Regions from separate parts of the Homo sapiens genome. Here region 1 is linked to region 2. Evidence: fine-mapped QTL for protein levels in blood plasma. A gene starts in region 2. The other region holds a variant in brackets. All regions are shown on one strand. Distances are from middle to middle.

What was found. A credible set is the group of variants that fine-mapping cannot tell apart. PIP is the chance, under the fine-mapping model, that this variant and not a neighbour inherited with it causes the effect. Protein levels are from the aptamer-based SomaScan assay of Sun 2018.
Region 1: its variant is the best candidate, but not a certain one, in a credible set for the plasma level of the B4GALT5 protein (Sun 2018, PIP 0.63).

The regions. Positions count from the first base shown.
Region 1 is chr20:49,648,334-49,652,333 of GRCh38, reverse strand. The region is part of intron 2 of B4GALT5 (beta-1,4-galactosyltransferase 5); the gene reads left to right. Among named protein-coding and RNA genes, the nearest start is that of B4GALT5, 64 kb to the left of the region's middle. The variant TTTA/A (reference allele first, on the strand shown) is at 1,875.
Region 2 is chr20:49,711,705-49,716,134 of GRCh38, reverse strand. B4GALT5 (beta-1,4-galactosyltransferase 5) reads left to right here and starts at 2,257. Exons shown (of 9, transcript NM_004776.4): 1 at 2,257-2,559. The coding sequence starts at 2,445. RefSeq lists silencers at 2,045-2,374, 2,665-2,784.

The DNA of each region.
Region 1 (4,000 bases), 64 kb after region 2:
GGAAAGTGGTGATTCTTGCTGGGGTCCATTGGTCAGCACTTTCGATTCCTTCTCAACTGGATTTGGTAACACAAGGGAGAAGGCAGGTTTTTACCTCCTCCAGGTATTAGGGTAGCAATACCAAGCTTAGCTATACATTGGAATTCCCAAGGACGTTTCCAAAGTACTGATGTCTGTGCCTGACTGCTAGCGATTCTTATTTAATTGGCCTGAGGTATAGCCTGAATGTTAGAATTTTGTTTGTTTGTTTTTGTTTTGAGACAGTCTTGCTCTGTCACCCAGGCTGGACTGCAGTGGCACCATCTCAGCTCACTGCAACCTCCGCCTCCTAGATTCAAGTGATTCTCCTGCCTCAACCTCCTGAGTAGCTGGGACACCAGGTGGGTGCCACCACCCCCGGCTAATTTTTGTATTTTTAGTAGAGATGAGGTTTCATCATGTTGCCCAGGCTGGTCTGAAACTCCTGGCTTCAAGTGATCTGCTCACCTCGGCCTCCCAAAGTGCTGGGATTACAGGCATGAGCCACCACACCCGGCCTGGTGTTAGGATTTTTGAAAGCTTCTTAGATGATTCCAATGTGCAACCAAGGCTGCTGAACCACTGGTGTGAAGCAATGCTGAATAAGCAGTTGCTGTTGGACAGAAATGTTGGTCTGCAAGCCCATGATATCAGTAGCCATTTGAACCTGTAGGTAGGAGTCTGTTGTTTTCCCATTTTCTATCTATCTATCTTCTTTTTTTTTTTTGAGACGGAGTCTCGCTCTGTTGCCCAGGCCGGAGTGCAGTGGCACGATCTTGGCTTGCTGCAACCTCTGCCTCCCAGGTTCAAGCGATTCTCCTACCTCAGCCTCCTGAGTAGCTGGGATTACAGGTACCCACCACCATGCCTGGCTAATTTTTGTATTTTTAGTAGAGATAGGGTTTCACTATGTTGGCCAGGCTGGTCTCAAACTCCTGAACTCAGGTGATCCACCTGCCTTGGCCTCTCAAAGTGCTGGGATTACAGATGTGAGCCACTGTGCCTGGCCTGTTTTCCCATTTTCTTTTTTGAGACAAAGTCTCGCTCTGTTGCCCGGGCTGGAGTGCAGTGGCGGGATCTCGGCTCACTGCAGCCTCCACCTTTTGAGTTCAAGCAATTCTCCTGCCTCAGCCTCCTGAGTAGCCGGAGCTACAGGCGCATGCCACCGTGCCTGGCTAATTTTTTGTATTTTTAGTAAGAGACACAGTTTCACCATGTTGGTCAGGCTGGTCTGGAACTCCTGACCTTGGGTGATCCATCCGCCTTGGCCTCCCAAAATGCAGAGATCACCGCGCCCGGCTTGTTTTTCCATTTTCTAAATGTAAAAGCAGCTGCCTTCTTTGCCCTTCAAGAACATGTCCAGGTTTGAAATAGATTAGATTTAAATTAAAAAGTAAAACTGTGGCTGTAGAAATTCAACAGGCTTGTTTTTCTCTCAGCATTTTCCTCATTCAGTAGGTACATGCTTTAGAAGAGTAAGAAGTTATATTTGGAACTCCAAGGGGATAAGGTATAACCCCACCCGTTGCTGGACAGCTAGCAGGGGAGAAAAACAAGGGCTCCTCACGATAACTGCACATAGTTTTACCAGGTCGTGAGCAATTAATTTCCTCTGTCTCTTTCATTTTAAAAGGCCTCTATTGCTACTGAAAAGCAGACTTTGTTTGTTTGTTTGTTTATGATGGAGTTTTGCTGTTGTTGCCCAGGCTGGAGTGCAACCGTGTGATCTCAGCTCACTGTAACCTCTGCCTCCTGGGTTCAAGCGATTCTCCTTCCTCAGCCTCCTGAGTAGCTGAGATTACAAGTACCTGCCACCATGCCCGGCTAATTTTTGTGTTTTTTTTTTTTTTTTTTTT[TTTA/A]GCAGAGATGGGGTTTCACCATATTGGCCAGGCTGATCTCGAACTCCTGACCTCAAGTGAGCACCCCACCTTGGCCTTCCAAGTAGACTTTATTTTAATTAAAGTTTTATTTAAAAATTTTTAAACAAGAAATCAGGAAATTAAGCCACCCCTCCCAAGATGTAGAGTAAGTTTCTGGAAGATTTTTGCAATAGAGTTGTTGCGTATTTGAGGATTCTTAAAACAGTGACATATTATTAATTTAGTAATCAGAAGAAAAATAAATGCTTTTTTTTTGTTTCATGCTAGGTGCTACCAGGCTTACTGTATCATTGTTTGAAGGAAGTAGAAAGGAATTTATCTATCTTCAAAGAAACTCCAAATAGTAGAATCATTAGAGTTAGTGATATCTTGTCTCTTGCCTCATGTTTTTTAAATTCTAGTTTCCTGATTAGGTTCTAGCTCTAGGGCTTGGGTCAGTCATTGACCAGAATGATTATTATCTTCGTTTTTGTTGATTTGTTTATGAAAATATACTTAGTGTAATACTTTTGGGAATTTCATTGCCTTCTAGTGAATGTATTGACTGTGCCAATACATGTTTCCAGCCAGCGTCTCTTGCCACACATGGGCGTATCACAAACACAGGCACATTTTCTATTACTTGTGAGGTCTTTTAATTTTTTTCTAAAGGAGAATAATTTCATCTATTAGATTCATCCTGAGTAATAATTAGGATGAGGGGTTCTTCACATAGATTTTTGAAGTAGTTACTACCTTCAGAAGAAGATTCAACCCAGGCCAGGTTTGCATGTATGAGCTGAGCTCAGAGAATTTCTGTGTAAATATTATCTTTAAGGTTCTGTCTTGGTTCATGTTTTTGTTTTTGTTTTTTTTTAAGATAGGATCTCATTCTGTCACCCAGGCTGGAGTACAGTGGTGTGATCATTGCCCACCGGAACCTCGACCTCCCAGGCTCAGGTGATCCTCCTGCCTCAGCCTCCCGAGTAGCTGGGACCACAGGCGCGCACCACCAGGCCTGGCTAATTTTTAAAATTATTTGTAGAGACAGGTTCTCAGCATGTTTCCTGGGCTGGTCTTGGCCTCCTGGGCTCAGGCAATCCTCTTGCCTCAGTCTCCCAAAGTGCTGGGATTATAGGCATGAGCCACCCCACCCAGCCTGGTTTATGTCTTTATATAAATTAGTCTCTACTATTCTCTATAAATGCAGGCTTAGTGTTTTTCAGGAAAGCTACTACTGAAAAGGACAGAAAGCATTCTGTTCCTTCCCTTGTTAAGACACAGTTAAAATTTTCAAGTTGCCTCTCGTTGAATTTTGCCCCAGAGTACTTGCAGAGTAGGCAGCGCAGAGTAGGCAGCCGTGTGCATATATAAAAGGATTCAATGTGTTAGCCATTTGATTCTTGGAAACCTGCTCATAGTGCTTTTTCAAAAATATCTTAGTTGAAGATTCTAGAATTCTAGGGTACAAAGTGAATTTGAACAGGATGTTTTAATTTTCATAGAATCAGCATGGATCCAAAAGGATTTAATATTCTGTGAAAAAAATAAAAACAATACAGTATACTGGAAGGATCTCTCATTCAGAGTTTAGTTGGAGCTCTGTCATGCATTAGCCAGGGCTCCTGGTCTGAGTTCTGTGTATGTTGTTCCAGTTATTCATCTGTAGAAAATGAGGTTGGAGGACCCTCCTCCTACTCTACAAGTACAGTCCCCTAGGAAAAAGACATCTGCCATCACACTCTTCATATCCACTAACGTGACTCTAAAGGGGCATACATATGTGAGGGTTTTTAAATTATAAACCCTTGAGAATGAGAACACAAAAGGAGACCACAGCAAAAAACCTTGGTAGGTAGAAAGCAGAAGAACCACTGATAAAAGACTTAACAAACCCAAGAAAACTGACTGCTCAAAGCAGCAACAGGAGAACCAGCAACCACCCCAGGATCCCCCAGAAGCTCAGGAACTAGCAATATGGGAAGTAGGAGCAAAGGTGGCAACTAAAATAAAGGGAGATTGAAAGCTGTTAAAAAGCAGTCAGATACCCAGACCCATTTCCCCATCCTGGCAAGAGCTGGAGACTTAATAACCCCAGAGATGGCAAAACAGAGGCTCCTCAA
Region 2 (4,430 bases):
TTTTTGTGGAAATGGAGTTTTGCCATGTTGGCCAGACTGATCTCAAACTCCTGAGCTCAAGCGATCCATCTGCCTTTGCCTCCCAAAGTGCTGGGATTACAGGTGTAATCGCCCAGCCTACCTTTAAATATTTAGCAAAAAATAAAAATTTTCAACATATGAATATAGATACATACATGTGGAAAAATGATAACAATGATCAAATCCAGGTGGGGAGTGTACAGATGTTTCTTGTACTATTCTTTCAACTTTTCTGTATGTTTGAAAATGTTTCATAGATACGAGGGTTGGGAGGGGCCATTGTGTGGGCCAACAAAAACTATTTGCAAGTTAGATGATTCCGGCTAGTCTGGGATTTCTGGTCCAGGGCCTTACCTGCACTATTTCATCGAATCCACATCACATCCCCGTGGGGTGGGCAGCACTGGGTCCGATTCACAGGTGATGAATAGAGAAGCTCAGAGAGGTAAGTGACTTTCCCAGAGTCACACAGCCAGGAGATGCCAAGCCGAGATTTGAACTCACATCTATCTGAGTCAAAATTCTCTGCTTTCCTTTTTGATCGTTTAAGCCTCTTCTCTTCCACCATACCATTCTCCAGGGGTATTGAATTAGGTGACAGCTAAGCACTCTTACTATGTGCACTTTGCATGTATTACTTAAATCCTCGCAACAACCTGATGAGGTTGCTAATAACCTCCTCCATTTTACCGAGGCACAGAGAGTTTAACTTGCGTGAGGTCACACAGCTAACAATGGAAAAGCTGGGAGTCAGAGAACCTGGGCAGTGTGGCTCTAGACTCCCCACTTAAAGGATCAAAGAAACACTGTAAAAAGTAGAAATCACTTTAGGAATATAAATCAGAATTATTGTTGATTCTCACAGAATCCCTGCAAAGTCCTCTCCCCTCCCCACTGCTTCTGGCATTCCAAGACAGTACCCTAGTTTCAGATATGTCTACACAGGGACACTGGCCTCCTCAGTCCAGCTCCTTGAGGCTACTGCTTCTTGCCATAAATTTCTAGGACTGTTCATTGCCTTCTGAGGTCCTTTGAGCTGATGCTGATCTGAAAGCATTTTTTTGGATATGGTCCCATACCCAGGTGATGGGGATAGGATACCGATTTGCCTGCAGGATAAGAATTAGAGGTCATACAGACTGCTGAGACAGTTACAACCTAGAGGTCAAGGGCCTGACATGGGAGACAGGCCAGTTTTGATTTAAGCCCTTACTGCAAGGCTTGGGTGAATTGCCTTTCCATCTAGAAACCTCAGTTTCCTCATTTGTATGATAGTAATAATAACAGCACACATCTCAAGACTGGTGGGGGAATTTCATGGCATGAGTGAAGTCCATGTTTCTCAGCAGAAGTCTAGAGACATTGACAATTGTTATCATTATGCTATTTCTGATACAGTAGGATCCCTGACTACAGCTCCAAGCTCATCCCTATTTCCCCCCCTACTTCACTGGATTTTATCCATGTTGGCCTTGGATTCAACTCGGGGGCAGATCAGCCCTTTTCCTACCTCAGGGCCTTTACACCTGCTGTTCCCCCTGGTATGACTGCTTTTTCCCCAGCTTATTCAAAAAAGCTGGCGCTTTCTCACCCTTTTATATCTCAGTTCGTGTCACTGCTCAGTGAGGCCTTCCTTGACCACTCCAGCCTGCCTGCAATACATCCTCCTGTTTTATCGTATTCATATGTGTTACCAGTACCTGATATTACTAGCTGATTTGTTTCTTTTATCTCTCACATAATGTAAGTTTCAAGTAGACAGAGATTTTTATCGTTTTTTTTCTCTGTAGCATGCCCAGCGCCAACAACTGTGTCTGGCATTCAATAAATAAATGGTGAATTGAATGAATGAATGAATGAATGAATGAGGGTGTATACCAGGCCGAACCCCCAAGCCTTGCAGTCCCCACTCTTCTGCTGCAGTGGGCAACGAGATGAGTCAGACTTTGTAGATGGCCCCTTGGCCCCCGAGATGGGGGACGAGCTAGCGCGGAGCACTTGGGAGACATTCCCCGAAAGCCTGGGCGGTGGCCGCACTGGGAGAGGGTCTGTCGCCATTTGGCGATTACTCCATGCGGGCTGCTGTGGGCGCCGAGCGAGGGTCGGCGGCGAGCGCAAGCGCGCGGGTCTTTTGCGACGGTGCCCGGCGGCACTGGCCCCGCCTCCCGCGCGTGCGCCCCGCCTCCGCCCCCGCCGCTGCGCCCGCTCGGGGCCGCTCTGGCCCCCGCCCGCTTCATGTGGCCCGGCCCGCGACGGCCGGCGGCTGGGAGCGGCGAGGCGGCGGCGGCGGCGAGTGGCGGCCCGCGAGGCCCGGGAGGCGGTGGCCGAGGCCCAGGCGGTGGCGGCGGCGGCCCAGGAGGCGGCGGACGGGGAGCTGCGGGAGCAGGCCCGGCCTGGCTCTCTAGCGGCCGCCTGGCTGCAGCATGCGCGCCCGCCGGGGGCTGCTGCGGCTGCCGCGCCGCTCGCTGCTCGCCGCGCTCTTCTTCTTTTCTCTCTCGTCCTCGCTGCTGTACTTCGTCTATGTGGCGCCCGGCATAGGTAGGAAGGGGGCTTGGGACCGCGGCGGCTGCCGCTCTGGCCTTGAGGGACCCGGGGAATCCCCGCCCCTCCCTAAGGGGCCCCGGCCGGGAGGCGGCCCTGAGCCTGGTCCTCCGAAGACTCCGGAGTCCTGGCCCGGCTCTCGGGGACGCCAGGACATTCCTGCCCTCCGCACCCCAACAGGCGCCCGGGATCCCTCTCCCGCGCCAGCCTCCGGCCCACCCCGCCCCTCCTAACGCCACCCTCGCGAACCCGACTGTACCTTCACGCCCGCCCCTTGCTCCGGAACCCCCTTCCCGCTCTTGCCTCGCTGGAACTCCCACTTCCCGCTCCTCTGCTCGAGAACTCCCGCTTCCCCTTCCCTTCCCCGGGGTCTCCTCGAACCCCCATTCCCGGCATTCCCCGCACCCCAGTCCCCCGCGGCGCGCCCGCTCTTCGCCGAGCCCATGTGCCCGGGTCCCAGGCCGCCCCACCTTCTAGCTCCCATCCATCCTCCCCCACTCCCCATGACTCCATCGTTTCCTGCTCCCGTGAGCCCCCTCCCTCCCCTTTCTTCCTCTACTTCCCCTATTACATCCACCTCCAGGTCCTCCTCCCTAACTCACGTTCACCTCTTCAGTGGCCTGATCTCTCTGCCTGCCGGTGGCACCCCCCTTCCCCTTACAGAGGTCCACCCCCATTCAATCTCCTGCTAATCCCCTGAGCGTCCCATGCCTCTTCCCCATCTCCCCCCCCCCCACCTCGCGTACCCACAAGGGCACATCCTTGTCACCTTTGCCCCCAGCCCCCCAGACTTTCAGCCACAGCTTCTTTCTCAACTGAAGACCTGGGGAAGGGGTGCTGTCTGTGTTCTTTCTTCCACTTCTGCCCTCTCCTAGCCTTGAGGGTAGATGGTGTGGTTCTTCAGTATTGGATAGTGCCTGCTCTGCGGACAAAGGAGAAGTTTAAATTGTCCGTAGAGAAGGGGATATGATTGGGGCCTTTGGGAAATGGTACCAGGTGAGAAGGGGGAGCATGGAGGAAAGATGTAATGGGTACTCCTTCTTTTCAAAGTCTTATCCTTTAAAGGAAAGGCGGTCTCTGGAGAAACTGACCCTCCCACCCCTCCCCCGCCTGCCCCAAGCATAGTCTTTTATAAGACCACAGGGCACCAGTTAGGACAGGAAGAGATCAGAAGGAAAGACAGCATGAAGGTTAAGAGCGGAGGACACAGAGGTCAGACTTGGATTCCAATCTCTGCCCTGTATGACCTTGGGCAGGTTACTAAGCCTTTGCATTTCTCCTCTGTAAAATGGGAATGTGAGTCCCAATCTCATACAGTGTTAAGGATGGAAGTAGATACATGTTCTTTAAAAGCACTTACCACTGTACCTGGTGCTTGAAGAGTTTTAAAAATAAGTAAATAAAGGCAGCTATTACATGTAACTTCCAGGAAGAAGGGAGTTAGGTGGAACGCTTAAGGAATGTGTTTGCCTGACTTGGCATCACTATGAGGAAACCTCAGTTTATGGTGAAAAATGATCAGAAGATGCTGCTGGGGTAGGGGCAGGGAGAGTAAATTCTGCTAGAAAAATTTTGGATTATATGGATTTTAGGAAAGGGTTGATGGTTTAGCTGTAGGGAAATGCCTTTTAGGATTGTAGCAATAACTAGTGCCATTCTCTGTTGACCTGTCAACGCAGAACTAGCTGAATAGAGAAATTTCCAGATAGAGCAGGAGATCGTCTCCTGATTATTTTTTAAGCATATTTTACTTGTGGTTAATGTTGATGTTTTGAACTATCAACTAGATCTGGGAAGATAGAACAGGCAGCATCAGATTGCCTTGTTTACAAAGTGTCATCACGAAAAGTGTTCCTCTAGGAAGGCAT